Homo sapiens: one gene and its partners. The protein of the gene in region 2 interacts with the protein of the main gene of each other region in a biochemical or structural test. Each region holds a gene or a part of one and is shown on either strand. Other genes may lie near its edges. The genes, in order: ROCK1, IKBKB and MAP3K11.

The links.
Region 1: of the proteins of IKBKB (region 2) and ROCK1, one has a biochemical effect on the other in vitro, tested with the Homo sapiens proteins (one study listed by BioGRID).
Region 3: of the proteins of IKBKB (region 2) and MAP3K11, one has a biochemical effect on the other in vitro, tested with the Homo sapiens proteins (one study listed by BioGRID).

What each region holds. Positions count from the first base shown.
Region 1 is NC_000018.10:20,951,090-20,954,837, forward strand, and holds part of ROCK1 (rho-associated protein kinase 1), read right to left. Parts: coding exon 3,694-3,748; intron 2,697-3,693; coding exon 2,489-2,696; intron 299-2,488; coding exon 295-298; 3' UTR 1-294. UniProt on the Homo sapiens protein: Protein kinase which is a key regulator of the actin cytoskeleton and cell polarity.
Region 2 is NC_000008.11:42,302,180-42,305,927, reverse strand, and holds part of IKBKB (inhibitor of nuclear factor kappa-B kinase subunit beta), read right to left. Parts: intron 742-3,748; coding exon 653-741; intron 1-652.
Region 3 is NC_000011.10:65,612,562-65,616,309, reverse strand, and holds the start of MAP3K11 (mitogen-activated protein kinase kinase kinase 11), read left to right. Parts: upstream 1-2,088; 5' UTR 2,089-2,553; coding exon 2,554-3,292; intron 3,293-3,748. UniProt on the Homo sapiens protein: Activates the JUN N-terminal pathway. Required for serum-stimulated cell proliferation and for mitogen and cytokine activation of MAPK14 (p38), MAPK3 (ERK) and MAPK8 (JNK1) through phosphorylation and activation of MAP2K4/MKK4 and MAP2K7/MKK7.

The DNA of each region.
Region 1 (3,748 bases), on a different chromosome or scaffold from region 2:
TTCTTATAAATCCAAAAAGGCAGCACCTTTTAAAAAAAATATATCTACCTAAGCTTTCCCCCAACTGTACTTGCATTACATAGTAATAATTAATCTAATCTACCTGTAGGCAAACCCGCAATAAAAAAAACCCTCAGTGTGTTGTGCCAAAGCAAGGACAGAAAAACAGCAATCTTAACCCTGAAGCCTGTGATATTTGTGTCAAAGAAACAGCCTGTCTGCTCTGCATGGTTAAAGAAGCCTGGTTTATCAGGTAGCATCCCACACGATTCCACAGGGCACTCAGTCACATGGTTAACTGTTGAGGGAGGGGGAAAAAACTAATTTAAGAAATGCACTCAGTTTAAAAATACAAGAAACAAACATTAGGAGGAAAGGTAAATATACATTATCTTTACATAAAATAATTAACAATTACACAAAATTTGGAAAACAAGGAATAGGAAAAATATACTTAGTATTCTCTCCTCTTTGTTTCTACACATTTTCTTACTCAGCTATAATCTCATTTCAAATCATTTTAGATCCAGTTTACAACCTATGCTCAGGAGAAGGCTGACATAGCATTCTACAGAATTAAGTTAGCAGTAAGGTGATAATACCTGGCATAGTATGGTGGCTGAGAAAGGAAAGGATATAAGTCATTTCAAAGAATTAGGCCTGGTTACTGACAATAGGGCATGAACAAAAGGGATGAATTCAAGATGGCTTTAAGCCTGCTTGGAAGATGTAGGTGACATTGGCAGCGAGGCAAATCAGTGTTAGGTCTCAGCTTCTAATTCGAGTGGCCCTATTAATCTAGGGAGTACACTCTAGGGAAGGTGGTATGTGGTAGAATAGAGGCTTTGGAATTGGACAACATAGGCTTTAGAATTGGACAGAAATGGTTTCCAATCCATTGGCTGTGTGATTGAGCAAACTGCTTAATTTCTCTGAGCCTTATTTACTAATGTGTAAAATGAGAACTTAATGAGATGAGATTTCATTATTTCTCTCCAAGAAAGAGTTAACTGCCTGGTGCGGTGGCTCATGCCTGTAATCGCAGCACTTTGGGAGGCCCAGGAAGGTGCATCACCTGAGGTCAGGAGTTCAAGACCAGCCTGGCCAACATGTTAAACTCCATCTCTACTAAAAATACAAAAATTAGCAGGCCGTGGTGGCATGTGCCTGTAATTCCAGCTACTCAGGAGGCTGAGGTGGGAGAATAGCTTGAACCTGGGAGGCAGAGGTTGCAGTGAGCTGAGATTGCGCCACTGCACTCTGGCCTGGGTGACAGAGCGAGACTCTGTCTCAAAATGAATGAATGAATGAATGAATGAATGAATGAATGAATGGTTATGCCTTATAATTGTTTATCATGGCATAAAACATATTTTTGGAAAAAAGTCCATCAAAAATAGTTAAACAGCCAGGCATGGTGGCTCACGCCTGTAATCCCAGCACTTTGGGAGGCTGGGGCATGCAGATCATTTGAGGTCAGGAGTTTGAGATCAGCCTGGCCAACATGATGAAACCCTCTCTCTACTAAAAATACAAAAATTAGCCAGGCGTGGCATGCGTCTGTAATCCCCGCTACTTGGGAGGCTGAGGCTGGAGAATTGCTTGAACTTGGGAGGTGGAGGTTGCAGTGAGCTGAGATAGCGCCACCACTGCACTCCAGCCTGGGTGACAGAGTGAGACTCTGTCTCAAAAAACAAAAAAAAAAAGGGGGTCATGAGTTCACATCCTTTGAAGGGACATGGATGAAGCTGGAAACCATCATTCTCAGCAAACTAACACAGGAATAGAAAACCAAACACCACAGGTTCTCACTCGTAAGTGGGAGTTGAACAATGAGAAAACATGGACACAGGGAGGGGAACGTCACGCACCAGGGCCTGTCGAGGGATGGGGGGCTAGGGCAGGGATAGCATTAGGAGAAATACCTAATGTAGATGATGGGTTGATGGGTGCAGCAAACCACCATGGCACGTGTATACCCATGTAACAAACCTGCATGTTCTGCACATATATCCCAGAACTTAAAGTATAATAATTAAAAAAACATAGTCACTGATAATACCAAATAATTTTGTATGTTGGGATAGTATGGGAAGTTAACAAAAAAGGGAAAAACAATTTTGGTTTTTGTAGAAAAACTATGCCAACACAGTTAAAAAACAGAAAAGATGATGAAAAGTTTTATATGAATTTCTGCATTAAAAAAATTAAGTTGGTTAAAGCATTAAGGGCTAAAACTATGCCATGTACAGCAACTTATGACAATAAAATTAGACACAGAACTAAATAAATATAATATTGCATGTATTATTATTATTAAACTCTAACAAGAATAAGTTAAACTAATTTATAAAGTCACTGCAATTCACATACAAATACCTAAAAATGATGCCCTCTGTGGTGAAAAGCACAATTAGATTTCTGATTTTAATAGCTGTTATCCAATCATTTTCACATTGTTAAAAACGTTAGCATTTCAAATCCTTACCTAGTTTTTCCAGATGTATTTTTGACCACTTTCCGGAAAGACTGATTTGCAGTGGATCTTGTAGAAAGCGTTCGAGGGGAAGCACGAACAAAACCAGATGGTGGATTCTTAGGGATTTTCTTTACTAAATGAGTTACCCATTTTTTTTGTTCATCCTGAGAACATGCTAACAGCAGCATATCTCTTGCTGATGTTACATCATAACTTACTATGTTAAGGAGGAAAAAAAAAGCATAATTAAAGCCATATAGTTTTTTAAAATCCAACCTATCAAATGCATAGTTTTTCAAGTTCTTAAGGTTTTAAAAGTTTTAATATGCTTAATTAAGCATGAACAATATCTCATTCTCCTTAAGTTAAATAAGGCTGAAATTAAAAAAAAAAATTAGTCAAACTAATAAAGTAAAATCAGAAATATAACAAAATGTAAAACAAATAAATGTATTTAAAGAACATAAGCTTCTTATCTGAAAATAGCTATGGTCTGTATTCTTTCCCTCAAGCTACCTCTGTAAAACTAGAAGATATTCTGTGATACAGCATGCATGCTGATCCAGGCAGTGAATGCCAGACAAAAAGAAGAGGAAAAACTCAAGGGAGGAATAGAGTGGAACTCACCTGTTGCTCTTCTCTCCAACTTGGAATAATTTCTTAGCAGCATGTTTGTTTGTTTTTGTTTGTTTACAAGGGGGTGATTCTCTTTAAAAACACTGTTGGCCGGGCGTGCAATGGCTCACACCTGTAATCCCAGCACTTTGGGAGGCCGAGGTGGGTGGATCACCTGATGTCAGGAGTTCGAAACCAGCCTGGACAACATGGTGAAACTCCATCTCTACTAAAAATACAAAATTAGCCGGGTGTGGTGGCACACGCCTATAGTCCCAGCTACTCAGGAGGCTGAGATAGGAGAATCACTTGAACCTGGGAGGCAGAGGCTGCAGTGAGCTGAGATCACGCCACTGCACTCCAGCCTGGGCGAGACAGAGTGAGAATCCATCTCAATCAATCAGTCAATCAATAAAAATAAATAAAAACATTTTTAAAAGCTAAATCTGTAAATAGCTGCATATTGCCCCACCAGTGTCAAAATAATACTTTCTATAATCTCTTTTCAACTTGGTATAGAAATCACTACACATAAGTTAGTTCATTGAGACTTAAAATTAAATTTGTTATAAGTTGTAACAATAATTACCATGCCTTACCTTTACATGGACAAATTAAGTCCTCTTTCTTATCTAAGTGATCTCTGTGGCACTT
Region 2 (3,748 bases):
TCACAGGCCAGGCCTAGGTGCTAAGGGCAGCTGTATGGGAAGGGATTAGGTGATCTAAGAACTCATTCACTGTATTCCACTCAGCTGAGCCTGTGCTCACCACCCCAGCTGAACACATAGAGTGGGTGGGTAAAGACCACAATGTCAAGCTTGTGGGGCAGTCAACACCACGTCTGAGCCGGGTGGCCACTGAGGAGGCCACAAAGAGCTCTGGGGAAACTATAGGCTGGACCAGGCTTGGCAGCAGAGGCCAGCTCCCAGTGCCTCTTCCCAGCCACATCCACAACCAACTGACCACTGGTTTCCATTTAGAGTCGAGAGGCGAGGCTCTTAAAGCAAATGGAAAACAAAAAGTCGACTTCCAAGAAGCGCTAGTCCCAGAGGCTAGGGGTGGAGGTAGGAAGGCAAACATTATTTTCCTTATCAGATTCCTGCAACTTGAGCAACTAACAATGTAATCCATTTAAACTTGCCTCAATCTGCAACAACTTTTTTGCTCAATTTTGTTTCAAATCAAACAGCATTCCCAGAGAATCAAAGCACAGGCAAGGAAATGCAAATACACACAAATATGCAGAGTGTGCTCCTTTCCTCCCAGGCCACTTCCCGGCACGCCCACCTGAGGCTTTCCCAGTCCCAGGAGGTCACTTACCCTCTGTTCTCCTTGCTGCAGGACGATGTTTTCTGGCTTTAGATCCCGATGGATGATTCTGTTTTCATGAAGGTATCTAAGCGCAGAGGCTGAGGAAGAGGGGGGTGAGTTTTTCTTAGGCCTAAAAAATGCTTTTCATGACAGAATCTCCTATCCTGCAAAAGATAAATGCCGCATGCCCCTGAAACATACTCTGACTTGTAGCGCAATACCTCAGGGTGGAGGGCAGGGGCCCTGCTACGTGAGGCTTAAACTTCCACAGGAATCTGGCTTACTTGCGCAAAGCACTCTTTGCCTTGCATCCATGAGGTCACCAACTGCAGCCTAGAGCAGTGCTTCTCAAACTATACTACCTGGACCAGCAGCAAACAAGCTTGTTCAAAATGTGAAATTCTCGGGCTCCACCTGAGACCTCTGGATTCAAGTCTCTGGGGATGACCCCACGATCTGTGTTAACAAACTCTCCAGGTGATGCTGACGCCAATAAAGTTTTGAGAAGGGAAGTTTCTTTGGTCTAGAGGCTCAAAAATCTAAATTCTATAGGGTGGGCAAGGAGGAAGGGCCCTTGGGGACAGAGTCCTATGGTCATATGATCGACAGTCCCAAGAGGTCAGAACTGGCTTCCAGGAAGCAGCGGGGAGGCAGAAGAGGAGAACAGGGACACCTCCCACACATACAGACAGCCCTACACAGACTTACTACATGCCCAGTTCTCTGGGAGGTTCTGTGAGGGACATAAAATAAGGGGCATGATCCCCAACTTTAAAGAGCTCAGAATCTAGTTGGAAGAAAGCAGACTGCACAACACTGGCTACGGAAGCATTTGATACCAAGAGCTTCTGCTGTGAGGAGGCAACGTGATGATGTCACATGAGGAGGCACCCGCCTGCAGCTCAGATGGCAAGAAGGACATGATTTTACCCTCAAGAGAGGGTGAATAACTTTGACAGACATCTAGTTCACTGCACTATAAAAGAAAGAAATGAAATAAATAGTACTGAAATGAGATAAAATTATTTTTATTTGGAGATGCTATGACTAGAGATGGAGATAGATTTGGAGATGTAGCCTAGAGAGCTCAACAGACTAAACACTGGATAAAATTTAGCCAGTTGTCTGGAAACGAACAAGAATACACAAGTCAATAGCTTTTCTCTATGTTAGCTATATCCAGTTGCAGTGGAAAGGAAAAAAAATCCCATTCACATTAGCAACAAAAACTCCAAAACACCATGGGATACATGTAGCAAAAAGAGCAGTGTATGCAGGAAAGTCACATGGTATAAATAGAACAGTGCAAATAACATTAAAAGGTTTTCAAAGTTTATGGCAAAAGATACTATAAACAAAGCCAAAAGATAAGAGAGGTGGGGAAACAATATCTACAACACATACACCAAAGAGTAAAGATACCTAATAGATAAAAAGCTCTTATAAATCAATAAGAAAGCAATGCAGAAGAAAAATGGGGCTGGGCGCGGTGGCTCACGCCTGTAATCCCAACACTTTGGGAGGCCAACGTGGGCGAATCACCTGAGGTCAGGAGTTCAAGACCAGCTTGGCCAACATGGTGAGACCCTGTATCTACTAAAAATACAAAAAAATTAGCTGGGTGTGGTGGCATGCCCCTGTAATCCCAGCTACTCGGGAGGCTGAGGCAGGAGAATTGCTTGAACCCAGGAGGCAGAGGTTGCAGTGAGCCGAGATCATGGCCACTGCACTCCAACCTGGGTGACAGAGTAAGACTCTACCTAAAAAAAAAAAGAAAAAGAAAAAGAAAAATGGGCAAAGAATGTCAAGTGGTGAGAAAGCACAGAAGAAGAGATACAAATGGTATCACTTCACTGGTAGCCCAAGGATACTTACTGCATATCTTGAATGAAATAATTAGAAACAGACAGTCATTAGGAAATGTTAGAACAAATTATGGTAGTGCCACATTAGAACAGGCAACTCTTGGGTCTATATTTTCTGACTCAGAGGGATAGTTAATGGTATGACCTGTTTCTTGTTTAAAACTTAAAAAGTCAAAAGCAGTAACATTCAGAGGTTTAACAATGAACCCTCTGTATGCCGTCGCCGCCACCACCATTCTCATTCTCTCTGTTTCTCTCTCATTCTCTCTCTCATTCTCTCTCCTCTCTCTCTCTCTCTCATTCTCTCTCTCTCTCTCTCTCTCTCTCATTCTCTCTCTCTCTCTCTCTCTCTCTCTCTCCCTCTCGGCAAGCCGGGGAGGGGAAGACCCCTGAGGCCCAGGCAGCGATCCTATCTGCTGTCATGGGTACGGCCCTCTGTGCAGGGTAACGGAAAAGCCTTCCACAGAAACTGAGTAAGCAAACATTCTCTGCAAAGACTCTAAGCTGAACATTTGCTGAAAACATATTTAAGAGTCAAACTGAGAGCTGAACAACTGACTTCCACCTTATTAAAGGAGTTCCAGCTCAGAACATTAAGCTATACATGATGAGTATCTCTTATCCAAAATGCTTGGGATCAGTTTTTTTTTTTTTGGATTTTGGAATACTGGCATATTCCTAATGAACCCAAGCTTAAACACAAAATTCATTTGTTTCATATATACCTTATATGAAACAACTGAATTTTTATAAATGATTTTATAGTCTGATGGTAATTTTATACAATAGTCTTAATAATTTTGTGCATGGAACAATGTGTTAAGTACTTAAGTGTGGAATTTTCCACTTCTGGCATCATGTCAGTGTACAAAAACCTTCAGATTTTACAGCCCTTTAGATTTTGGACTTTGGGATTAGGGATGCTCTATCTGTGGTGCCAGATCTCTCCTTGCATCTGCTCTTTTAAGTCCAGCCTTCGACCATGTGGTTCCAACATATCATACTGTTCCTTACTTTTCATTTCCTTCCTAAGTGACAGAGTAGATCAGCTTAGGTCCAATTAATGTCCAGATGAGGTGAAAGACTCGCTGCTTTCCATGTGCCTAAAAAATTATATTTCATCTTGTTCTCAATTGTGTTAATGTTTCAAGACCAATGCTTCTCATCAGCACTTTTATTTTTGTTTTACTTTTATTAAAAATCAAAGCAAATGAAAAAGCATAATAAATTAAATGAAGTA
Region 3 (3,748 bases), on a different chromosome or scaffold from region 2:
CCCCGCCGCTGCTGCCCGCGCCCCCCCTCCCGGGACCCTCATGGGGGCGGCCCCCGGCCCATGCCCCGTCTGGCGCCTGAGGGCCCCGGGGCCCGGCCTCACGCTCACGCCATGGCCTCCCCCAGCGGGGGAGGGGGGCTCGGCCGCGCGAGGGTGCGAGCAGGGGGCGGGGCCGGCCGGGACAGTCAGTGGTGCAAGGCCCGGACGCGGGGGTGGGGCTGCATCAGGGGCGGGGTCCGGGTCCCCACTCCTGGCCCAGAATTGCTCCGAGGGGCCGAGCCGGCAGGCAGGCGCGGGGCACGGGCCGGGTACCCGTCGGCGGCATCCAGAGGTGGTCGTGGGGTGGGTGCTCCCGGGGTGCAGGCGACAGCTCCCTAGTCTCCGGACCAGGGAGAACCCCAGGATCTGGGGTCCACTTTCGGGGTCGCAGGTCACTTGCTTGGGGCTCCGCGCTCGCCCGGCTTCTGCTGGTGCCGGCCTAAGGAGGAGGCCGGAAGAAGGAGCCGCGAACCGCCAGCCTGCAGTGGCGCATGCGCCCAACGATTCCAATTGGGACCCGGAAAAGGAAAACTTGACGGCATGAATGCGCAAGCGCAGAAAGGTGATGGCGCGGTAGGACGCGAGGGGTGCCCTTTGGGCGTGCGCAGACTCCAGGACTAAAGCAAGTTCGAGCGTAAAAGCGTTTGGGCGCATGCGTAGACCCAGGCGTTGCCAACCCAGGGTAGACGACTGGGCGGAACCAAAGAGACAGTTGAGTAGCCATTGGGTAACGGCAAAGTAATTGGCGCACAGCTCTTCCAATGAGTTACAGGAGGCGGGGAAAAGGTGGAGGCGTGGACTCCCCTAGTAGCAGCGAGAGTTCTGCACTACCGAAGCACGCCCCTCTCGGCCCGCCCCCTTTAATGCTGGACCTCGTACGTCACGACCGATTTCGCTCCCAGCGGCGTCTACTTCCGGGTCAGAGCTCAGACCTAGGGTGTAGAGAACAACCTTCCGTAACAGGCAGGAATAGTCGAAATAGGATAGCGTCGTCTTTCTTAAAGTGACAGGCTCAAAGCAATTGGGGCAGCCCTATCCAGAAGTTGTGAGGGCGACTCAGCTATTCTGAATCCAATCCTGGGCAAAGTTCTGGACAAGTCTCAGGTTTCTGCCAATGGGGAAGGGATATGAAGAAGCGGATTGTTTCCCAGGTGAGGAGAAGAAGAGAGCCTTAGGCAATCCACTCCAAGAGCTTGAGGTGCAGCCAGTTCCGTCTGTCCTCCAGTCTTCCCCACCCCATCCAACTAGCTCTACGAGGCAGAGCTTTCTCGTCCTCATATCATATATGAAAAGAATGGCCGGGCGCGGTGGCTCACGCCTGTAATCCCAACACTTTGGGAGGCCGAGGCGGGAGGATCACGAGGTCAGGGGTTTGAGACCAGCATGGCCAACATGGTGAAACCCGTCTCCACTAAAAATACAAAAATTAGCCGGCCGTGGTGCCACGCGCCGGTAGTCCCAGCTACTCGGGAGGCTGAGGCAGGAGAATCTCTTGAACCCGGGAGGCGGAGGTTGCAGTGAGCTTAGACTGCGCCATTGCATACCAGCCTGGGCGACAGAGCAAGACTCCGTCTCAAAAGAAGAAAAAAGAAAGAAAATAATGAGGCTCAGAATCGATGGATCGCACAGTCCCACAACTTCGCAGCCAAGACCAGACTCGGGTTCACCCCCTTCCCAAGTGTGGTTCTGTAACCCCGTTTTGCTGCCGCCGATGCGGATGCAGAGGGCAGAGATGGCCCATCCTTAGCAGAGACCAACCTCCACCCTAGGCAGCAGAGCACGCAGCTGGGGGCTTTTCTTTCTAGATCTCAAAAGCCTGCTGTGATGGGGGATCTGGTTCTGCCCTTTCCCTCTCTGCCTCTCCTGGCCCGCCTACCCGGGAACTCCCCGCCTGGAGCCTCTGGGAGGGGAGCGGTGCAGGCCGCCCGCGTCATCTGATGCTGTTTCCTGCAGGAGGGAGAAGAGCGGAAAAAAGTGAAACTCCACCCTCCACCTCTGCCTCCCGCCCCCGGGGCCAAAGTACAAAGGGAGGAGGAAGAAGGGAGCGGGGTCGGAGCCGTCGGGGCCAAAGGAGACGGGGCCAGGAACAGGCAGTCTCGGCCCAACTGCGGACGCTCCCTCCACCCCCTGCGCAAAAAGACCCAACCGGAGTTGAGGCGCTGCCCCTGAAGGCCCCACCTTACACTTGGCGGGGGCCGGAGCCAGGCTCCCAGGACTGCTCCAGAACCGAGGGAAGCTCGGGTCCCTCCAAGCTAGCCATGGTGAGGCGCCGGAGGCCCCGGGGCCCCACCCCCCCGGCCTGACCACACTGCCCTGGGTGCCCTCCTCCAGAAGCCCGAGATGCGGGGGGCCGGGAGACAACACTCCTGGCTCCCCAGAGAGGCGTGGGTCTGGGGCTGAGGGCCAGGGCCCGGATGCCCAGGTTCCGGGACTAGGGCCTTGGCAGCCAGCGGGGGTGGGGACCACGGGCACCCAGAGAAGGTCCTCCACACATCCCAGCGCCGGCTCCCGGCCATGGAGCCCTTGAAGAGCCTCTTCCTCAAGAGCCCTCTAGGGTCATGGAATGGCAGTGGCAGCGGGGGTGGTGGGGGCGGTGGAGGAGGCCGGCCTGAGGGGTCTCCAAAGGCAGCGGGTTATGCCAACCCGGTGTGGACAGCCCTGTTCGACTACGAGCCCAGTGGGCAGGATGAGCTGGCCCTGAGGAAGGGTGACCGTGTGGAGGTGCTGTCCCGGGACGCAGCCATCTCAGGAGACGAGGGCTGGTGGGCGGGCCAGGTGGGTGGCCAGGTGGGCATCTTCCCGTCCAACTATGTGTCTCGGGGTGGCGGCCCGCCCCCCTGCGAGGTGGCCAGCTTCCAGGAGCTGCGGCTGGAGGAGGTGATCGGCATTGGAGGCTTTGGCAAGGTGTACAGGGGCAGCTGGCGAGGTGAGCTGGTGGCTGTGAAGGCAGCTCGCCAGGACCCCGATGAGGACATCAGTGTGACAGCCGAGAGCGTTCGCCAGGAGGCCCGGCTCTTCGCCATGCTGGCACACCCCAACATCATTGCCCTCAAGGCTGTGTGCCTGGAGGAGCCCAACCTGTGCCTGGTGATGGAGTATGCAGCCGGTGGGCCCCTCAGCCGAGCTCTGGCCGGGCGGCGCGTGCCTCCCCATGTGCTGGTCAACTGGGCTGTGCAGATTGCCCGTGGGATGCACTACCTGCACTGCGAGGCCCTGGTGCCCGTCATCCACCGTGATCTCAAGTCCAACAACAGTGAGTTTCTGGGGGCATGGTTGGGGGTGGCATGGCTCTGGTACACACCTGCTCCCAACCTTCCACTGAGCCTAGCTTAGGGTCTACTGCAGGTAGGAGCTCCCACCCTAGGGGGTCCCAGCTGACCAGGGGTGCCCATGGGCTCAAGCTAGCCCCCAAACAGAGCCCCAGGCACCCAGCAGAGTCTTCCTGCGCCAGCTTCAGAAGTCCTTGACCCCAGCCTGCAGCTGCGGTTTGGACAAGTTAAGAAATTGGTATCTCTCAGGTGGGCCATAAGCATCCTGCCCAGCCATGGCTCCCACCTCAAGGAAGTCCTCTGGAAGCTCGTGCTCCTCATCTTCTCCTCCCCTAAATTCATGTTCGTGGAGTTGGTGCTCTGTCCTCCCCTCCCGTCGTCATGGGCAGCTCCTCCAGAACAGATATCTCAGAGAGGGAAGCCCTCCTTGGCAGTCAAGG